Regions from separate parts of the Homo sapiens genome. Here all the other regions are linked to region 3. Evidence: fine-mapped expression QTL. A gene starts in region 3. Each other region holds a variant in brackets. All regions are shown on one strand. Distances are from middle to middle. Region 1 overlaps ZCCHC7 (zinc finger CCHC-type containing 7). Region 2 overlaps ZCCHC7 (zinc finger CCHC-type containing 7). Region 3 holds the start of ZCCHC7 (zinc finger CCHC-type containing 7).

What was found. PIP is the estimated chance that this variant, and not a neighbour inherited with it, causes the effect.
Region 1: its variant is the best candidate, but not a certain one, in a credible set for the expression of ZCCHC7 in prefrontal cortex (CommonMind, PIP 0.76).
Region 2: its variant is the best candidate, but not a certain one, in a credible set for the expression of ZCCHC7 in tibial artery (GTEx, PIP 0.65).

What each region holds. Positions count from the first base shown.
Region 1 is chr9:37,183,279-37,186,037 of GRCh38, reverse strand. All of the region lies in intron 2 of ZCCHC7 (zinc finger CCHC-type containing 7), which reads right to left. All of the region lies in intron 1 of LOC105376033 (a long non-coding RNA gene), which reads right to left. Among named protein-coding and RNA genes, the nearest start is that of ZCCHC7, 64 kb to the right of the region's middle. RefSeq lists an enhancer at 890-1,464. The variant A/CAAA (reference allele first, on the strand shown) is at 1,351.
Region 2 is chr9:37,300,540-37,303,298 of GRCh38, reverse strand. It overlaps ZCCHC7 (zinc finger CCHC-type containing 7), which reads right to left. Exons shown (of 9, transcript NM_032226.3): 3 at 1,068-1,111. Among named protein-coding and RNA genes, the nearest start is that of LINC01627, 93 kb to the left of the region's middle. RefSeq lists an enhancer at 758-807. The variant G/A (reference allele first, on the strand shown) is at 1,141.
Region 3 is chr9:37,119,140-37,121,898 of GRCh38, reverse strand. ZCCHC7 (zinc finger CCHC-type containing 7) reads right to left here and starts at 1,325. Exons shown (of 9, transcript NM_032226.3): 1 at 1,276-1,325. It overlaps LOC105376034 (a long non-coding RNA gene), which reads left to right and starts at 1,499. Exons shown (of 3, transcript NR_188580.1): 1 at 1,499-2,103. RefSeq lists an enhancer at 1,584-1,663.

The DNA of each region.
Region 1 (2,759 bases), 64 kb before region 3:
CAATCTCCAAAATATTATGTCCCAGAAAAAAAGTATAACATATGTACTGTATAATGTAAGATGCTTAGCAAATTGGCTGAAATTGTAAAAATAAATAAATAAATAAATAAATAAAATGCATGAATGAACAGATATTCCTGATAGTGCATCAAATAGTGTCCCCTCCCACAAAAACATATCCAAATTCTAACCCCAAGAACTTCTGAATGTGACCTTATTTGGAAACAGGGTCCCTCTAGATATAATTAAGGATCTTGAGGTGAGATTATCCTGAATTTAGAGTGGACCCTGAAACCAATGACAGGTGTCCATAGAAGAAAAAGAAGAAAAAAATTTGAGACCAAAGCCACCTGAAGACAGAGGTAAAGACTGGAGTGATGCAATCACAAGCCAAGGAATGCCTAAGATTACCAGCCACACCAGACACCAGAAAAGAGGCACAGACAGGCCTCCCTCAGAGCTCTACAAGGAACCAAGCTTGCCAACAGACTTCTGGCCTCCAGAACTCTTGAGAGAAGAAATTTCTGCTGTTTTAAGCCATTGAGTTTATGGTAATTTGTTACAGCAGCCCTCAGAAACTAATACATTCCTTTAAGTAGCAAACAAGAACAGTGTACATTTATATGCAAAATAATACATCATCTTATTTATTTAAAGGCTCTAAATTGTAACCTGATATTCACCTTATCATTTAACACCAGATCAAATGGAACACCCAGGAAGACTGCCTAAATGAGTGTCCAAATGATGGTAGATGATCACAACTCCTAAGGGATAGGAGGTGATCACCTATAGTATGTGTACCTAACATAGCAAGAGATCTTTTGCGGACTTTAAAATACAATAAAAAACCATGACTACTTGTAGATGGCACCCACGACCTCTAGAGACTGTTGGCCTGGTGTCTGCCAATTGCCTCCTGAAGTGTAAGCAAATAAAATAATATGTTTAGTTTCGAAGTACGGGTCAAGGGGACAACATGTTAAGGAAAAAAAAAGATCTCAGCAAGTTCCAATAGGCACATCCAGAAATCAGGTAGGTGGAAATCTAAGTTACACTAACATTCCTAGAAACCCACAGGAAATCTAAAAGACATAATAGTCCTCAGGGACTATTGCCATTCTAAAATGTGAATCCTTTTCTTTTCATGACCATTTAGAATGAATTTTAGAACATTCATACGTAAAAACAATGCCTTTCAGAAGTTACAATAGACCTCTCCAAATACTCAAAGAGTTATCCCAAAAACAGTCATGCAAGTGACTACTTCCTAAGAAGTATGCCTGAGCAAACCTATCCCACATGCAGCCTGAACTTCAACAACAACAACAACAACAACAACAACAACAA[A/CAAA]TCACCAGACAGAGGTTAAAACTTGGGTAATAAAATAGCATTTTATCAGCTGAAAGACAGTCAGATCAATAAATAAAGCTGGAAATCTCTCTCAGGGTATTCGTACTATGTATTTCCTTACTGATACCAAGTACAAAAGAGAAAAATTCCAGAAATAGAGGTGTCAGGGGATTCAGGATAAGAGATCAGGAGAGCAGGAATAGGATCCTGCCAGGCCCCATCAGTAAAACATAGAGCACCTCTTGCTCTCCCAGCTCTGGCATAACTTTTTAAATGCCTTTTTTTTTTTTTTTTTGATGCAAGCCAATAATGGGAATCTAGAAAACTGCCACTAAGGAGTTAAGTAAAACAGGGAATAATTTACTTTATCAATGATCCAAACCAGCCCCTGAATCATCAGATGATATAGACCAAGTTGATTCTTAGATTTCTATCGATTCAGTTAACAACATACACATATTACGTTGCTCCATAACAAAGTATGACACAAAAACAGTAAGGAATTAGCTCAACTAATACTTAACTACAGAAGGCTTCCAAAACGTACAAAATAACACAAACAAGTGTGAATGTCAGCATAATAGATACTGTTGAAAGACTTATTTGAGTATCTCTTCCTGTGGCTAGAAAACACATCTGGAAAAACACACAATTACAATACAAACACAATCCAATAAAAGTCCAACCCCTCTCTACTGTGCAGGGAAAGGAGGGGCTCAAGGCCATAGAAGGAGCTATGCTTGAATTTACAAAACTACCAGATGGCCAAGAGGGGACTAGATCAAGGGTAGAGGGCGGAATAGCATTGTTGTTCAGCGTGTAGACTCTGGAGCAAGAGGAGTTGGGTTCAAATCCTGAGTTTCCCACTTACTTGGGCATATTACTTTATCTCTTTACACCTATTTCTTTATTTATAAATGAGAGATAAAATTCATTGGGGTTGTTGATGTGAGGAGGAAAACAGTGAAAACATGTAAAGTGCTCAGGAAAGTAAAATAAGTAAAATATTTGCTATTAGCATTGAAACTGTACTCATCCATGCCTGGTAAACTGAAGCAAATTAACTGTTAGTTTGAACCATATAAAATGTTTATGTTTGTAGGTCAAAATACTCTGAATATCAACAACGCTATGGTTCAAATGAACATCAAAGAAAGGGCTGTGAAAACAAGTTGCTAAGAATGTCCATGAGGCCCAAAACCTAAAAAGTAATGTACTCACACAGTGGTTCTAAAATATAACTGAAGGAAAAGGATTTCTGCACCAGGCTGAAAACAAATAACATTTCAAATAATAAAGCACACAATTCTGTATGACTGACCTCTCAGGCAACCAATATTTCACACTGGATTGATTTTGAAAGGTGAACTAATATTTTATATTCAAGTACCTATTCTCTCTCCTCTGAG
Region 2 (2,759 bases), 180 kb before region 3:
CGCCCGCCACCACACCTGGCTAATTTTTGTATTTTCAGTAGAGAAGGAGTTTCGCCATGTTGCCCAGTCTGATTTCGAACTCCTGACCTCAGGTGATCCACCCACCTCAGCCTCCCAAAGTGTTGGGATTACAGGTGTGAGCCACCACGCCCGGCCAGCCACTGCTGATTTCTATAACTGAATGTACACCATGTTTTTCTGAATGGGAGGGCTACTTAAATTTTGAGTTAGGGAATGGTGTTTTTATGACTTTGTCTTTTGTAAAGTTAGTACAGCTACCCAATATATCCATTCTTTTGAACAGCACAGGGTTACTGCCTACAAGACTGGATGATAATAAAAGACTGATAATCCAGTCTTCCTTTATAGAAATAAAGGAATGAGATAATTTCTTTCCACTGGAATCCTTTTAAGATCCATTCTGCCTACAGAGTGACCCAATTCTAACTGTCCCATATTCTAATCTAAATCTAGGATCTTGTAAGAGAGTACCAACAATGCATATCATATGGAATATCTAAAGAGGAACTGTAAATCCCAACCATGCTTTAGCTTGTTTGGTAGAATTCCATCTTTAAAAAAGTTTTCATCTTTTATTTGTTATTTTGCTGAACTGGCCAAGTGGACCACATGTAAGTACAATCTAGCTATCTCCCAAAACCAAGTTATAAAATTATTCTCTTTTTGTAGCATCTGCCACAATTAAGGCTAATAATCGACAAAGACAAACACCTGCCACATCCTAAAAATAGACTAACCATTTCCTTACACTGAAGAAGCAGTTATTTCCGGTGTTGATCTTTTTAGTGGTACCAGGCCATATGGGCTGAGAGGACTCACCGCAGGAGAGAAACAGAAAGGGAAAGGGGACTGGATGATTACAGCTATTAACTCACTGACAAAACTCAAGGCTGAACCAAGTTTCTGAAGAGTTAAATCACTCATATGCTAAAATCAAATGTTTTCTTATAAGCCACTTAAACTTATTAATGTTCCAAAAGTTATCATAATAAACTATGAAGCAAAGGAAATTATTATTCTGAATTTTAAAAACAATTTGATTTTACCTCAATGTCTTTGTCACTGATGGACCAGTTTATACCATCTTCTCCTACAAAACAAATAAATTATTACTTAACC[G/A]TGGCACTTTTAAAGGACTTATAGATTGACAATAGATTACACAATTTATGAGTACTCAAATTGGACCCCAAAGGTACACTGAGAAATGTTGAATACCTGAAATTCCTATTTTGGCTCTGTTATTAATTATGTGGCCCTGGACAAATACTTAACCTCTCTGAGTCTCAGTTTTCTGACCTGTGAAATGGGATAATAGTATTTTCCCTGTCTGCCTAAAAAGTCCTGTGAGAATAAAATGAGGTATGTGAAAATACATTGAAAAGCATCAGACTACATACAAATATTAAAACAAAAAAAAATCAGTGAAGGGCCCAAAAATACAACAGCAGATGCAGAATGAAATCTTAACTTCTTTTATCTGACTAAAGCAGAGCTTTACTGAGGCAGCTGTCACAACCCTCTCACACCTCCAGGAGGATCCACAGGAGGGAGATGACTGACACTGGGCACTGAGACATAACAAAAAAATTGTGTAAATGAGATCTTTCTGTCCTTTGACTCCCTAAGCTACCCCCTCTTGTTAAGTTGGTATATAGCCCCTTACTTCTTGTTTTTTTTGGAGACAGGGTCTTGCTCTGTTGCCAAGACTGGAGTACAGTGGTACCATTTTGGCTCACTGCAACCTCCGCCTCCCAGGCTTAAGCAATCCTCCCACATCAGCCTCCTGAGTAGCTGGGACTACAGGAACTTGCCACCACGCTAGGCTAATTTTTATAATTTTTTTGGTAGAGACAGGGTTTCACCATGTCACCCAGGCTGGTCTCAAACTCCTGAGCTCAAGAGATCCACCCACTTCAGCCTCCCAAAGTGCTGGCATCTGTGGTGTGCCACAGCAAGAGGCATAACCCCTTACTTCTATAACCCTCTAAACTCTTCTTCAGAGTTACTGATATTGAGTGCTCCTTCAAGTGTGAATAAACCTTATCTTTTCTCCAGTTAACCTGTCCAGTATCAGTTAACTTGCAGGCCCACAATTTGAACTCAGCTTGGTAGAGGAAAAGTATTTCTACCAAATATGAGTATTAACTGTGTCCACTAGCTTTGCATTCTACATGACTTTCATTATAACAATAAAAAAATTAGACTCTGAATAATATCTCACTAATAGGGTTAGGTTCTTAGCACTGTATTTTATAACATCAAAAACAGCAAAATAAAAGAAAAAAAAGGAGGCCAAATATCCAGAAACCACTGATTAATCTAAAAATACAACTGTAAAAACCTAGTGGGGGAAATAATCTCCCACATTTTCTTGTATCAGCTATTTTCTTTTCTTTCCACTGTCCTTTCACAAACGTGCAAATGGCTGCTATTCCTTTGGTCCACCCATGGCCAAGGGGGAAGGGACCTATGACTAATGCAGAAACTAAAGTGTTGACAAAAGGACTGAAAGATCTTTTTCTCCCTTTAAAGCTAAGATTTCCTCTGTCCTCCTACCTTACTACTTTCCTCTATCTCAAAAACACAAATCAAGCTTGACTTGTTTCTTTGAAAGGCTTTTGAAGAGACATGAAGTAATCTACATTTTCCCAGGCCTACCAGGAGTAAGTGTCTAGAGATATATTTTTAAATAAAAAACTTTTCTAAGAAAACCATGAGGCTGCTTTACAAAAAGACCA
Region 3 (2,759 bases):
AATCAAATCTGATTGGGATGGAGAATCCAAATGTGTAAAACAAAAGTCACAAAAGACAAACAGAGCACAGTATTTCAGTGGGGGAAAAAAAATAAGCTAAATTTAGTCACTTAAGTCCCAGCTCTTCTTGGGATATATATATGATTTTTACGAGAACTAATCCTATCCGGAAACATTTCCTTCACCTTTCCCTTAGCCCTTTTCCTTCGGTCATGCAGTCTCTTACCGTGCTAATTATCATATTAATATAATCCTCACTTGCGATCCTTCCTGACTTTATTCCCCATGCTCAGATTCTCCTGAAAGCATAACGCTTTCCTAAGTATACACACAATCCATTTAAAAGTCTTTGTATGCGACAGCCTAACTATTCAAACACGAAGTCATTTCTCTAACGGTCCTAGAAAAAATTTTAAAAAGAAAAAGAAAACCACAAAGTCAAGAGCTTCTGAGGGGACCTGAAAAGTCATCAAATTGAACGCTCTCGTTTTATAGTTGGAGAAAGGAGCTCAGAGAAACTTATTCACTGAGCTAAAAAGGCCCTACTAATGCAGCCCGTAATTCAACTGTGCAATCTGAAATAATCTTAAATTCAGCTTCAATAAGAGCTTTCTGGAATCGCCAGCGAATCCGTGGGGGAGCCACGGCTAGAACCCAGGCCTCCTGATTCCCAGCCACAGCTTTTCCACCGAACCAGCAGCTCTTCCCAAAAGTTGAAGGCAACTGTCCGCTCACAGGATGGGAGGGATAAAGGGCGCCTTAGTAAACACAGTCCAAGTCTACTCGTTTTACATGAGGAAAGGGTCACAGCTCCCGAAATTTTGGATTCTACTGCTGCAGCTGCTGCTTCTGACAGCAGAGGCGGGAGGTGGCCCAGGACTACTCGGTCCTCAAAGACTGGACTCTCTCTCGGCGCGCCGGGACCTCCGCGCTTCACTGACTGGCTTCCCTAGAAGACTGGGGGCCTTGCGGGGAAATAAAAAGGGCAGACACGCCACCCTCACCGAGGCCCTAGACGCCCAGCCGCTCTAGAATCACGGCATTAGCCCTTGGAAAGCCAGGGAGACGCGGACCCCCTAGACCCGCAGCCCGGCCGCGTGGGGCGGCGCGCAGGTGACGGACCAGGAGCTGCGCCCTGCCACGAGTGAGGGGCGGACGGGAGACGTCGAGGCCGGCGAGGGGGCACGCGCTAGTTCCACAGCCCGGCGGGCAAGAAGGAGGGTAGGCAGGGGTCCCGAGCCGCGGGCGGCGGGGGTCCGTCACACACATACTCACTGCCGCAGCTGCGAACAGGAAGCACCAACCGGGAACCAAAACGCGTAGAGGGACGGGGAGGGGCGAGGACAAATGAGGTAAGGAGGCCGCGTCCGCGCAGACCCGGGAGGGAAGGCACTTCCGGGGACAACACAGCTCTAGTCACCGCCTTTCCGTCCCCGCCCACCTGCCGCGCCTGATGTGCGCATGCGTAGTGGGTGCGAACCGTTCTCTGCCCCGCCCATAATTATTAGGTTTGCCTTCCTTGCTTTCCCCCTTCCCCTTCCCAACTTCTCTTGAAGCTACCTAGGCTGCATCTATTATTTGAATGACTCGTACGAAGGAGATGCTATTTACCGGGCAAAAGCCGGGGAGTTCGTGCCCTCTACCCCCGCGAGGAAAACTACAACCCCCATGAGGACACGGGCGAGGTTGAGGCCGGGCTCCGCCTCCTTCTCCCTGGCGCTCGGTGGACGCCTTCTCAGTGCCACGTGGCGCGGGAGCCTAGCTGATCGCGTGCATGACGAGGGCCAGCGTGGCTGGCTGCTTGGCCCGCAGACCTGGGCAGCGGGAAACGCGTACTTGAGAGCGCATGGCTTCAAGCTTCTCCCTTGCGCTCATGATCTTAGGCTGGTCGCTTTTTCTTTTAGGCGGAACACAGTTCACACTGGGCGCCTCCAACTCTCTGGAATTCTAGGCAACAGATTAACACTTTGTGAATCTCGAAGAGCTGCACTCCTGCTAAATATTGGAGTTAATGCTGATCCTTTGGAAGTCTCTGAAGGTTGCAAGATTGTGCTGGGAGCCTCTGGCTTCATTTGCCCTTCTCACACCTTATTTTAATACAAGGTAAACCCATCTGTAGAACTTTAGAAATAACTGTCGACCTAAAGGAAAAACTGAGGCAAAGTTAATATAAGTGGAGAATTTATTTGGGCCAAGTTTGATGAGGGCAACCTGGGATCATCAATTCAAGTTGCCCTTAATATGTGATCCGATAAGCAGCAGTTTCAACTGAGTTCTTTGTCTTGTGAAGCTCCAGGCTTAAAGGTATCGATCCTCCCACCTCTGTCTCCCAAAGCACTGGGATCACAGGCATGAGCCATTACACTTCTTGTAGCAGCTACGAGTGAATTTTTTTCTTTCTTTATGGTTTTTTTTTTTTTTTTTTTTTTTTTTTTCCTGAGACGGAGTTTCGCAGTTGTTGCCCAGGCTGGAGTGCAATGGCGCGGTCTCGGCTCACTGCAACCTCCGCCTCCCAGATTCAAGCCATCCTCCTGCCTCAGCCTCCGAAGTAGCTGGGATTACAGGCGCCTGCCACCACGCCCAGCTAATTTTTGTATTTTTAGTAGAGTCGGGGTTTCACCATGTTGGCCAGGCTGGTCTCGAACTCCTGGCCTCGACCTGCCAAAGTGCTGGGATTAGAGGCGTGAGCCACCGCGCCCGGCCACGAGTGAATTTTTAAAGGAAAAAAGAAGAGGCTTTTGCTAAACTACATACCAAGA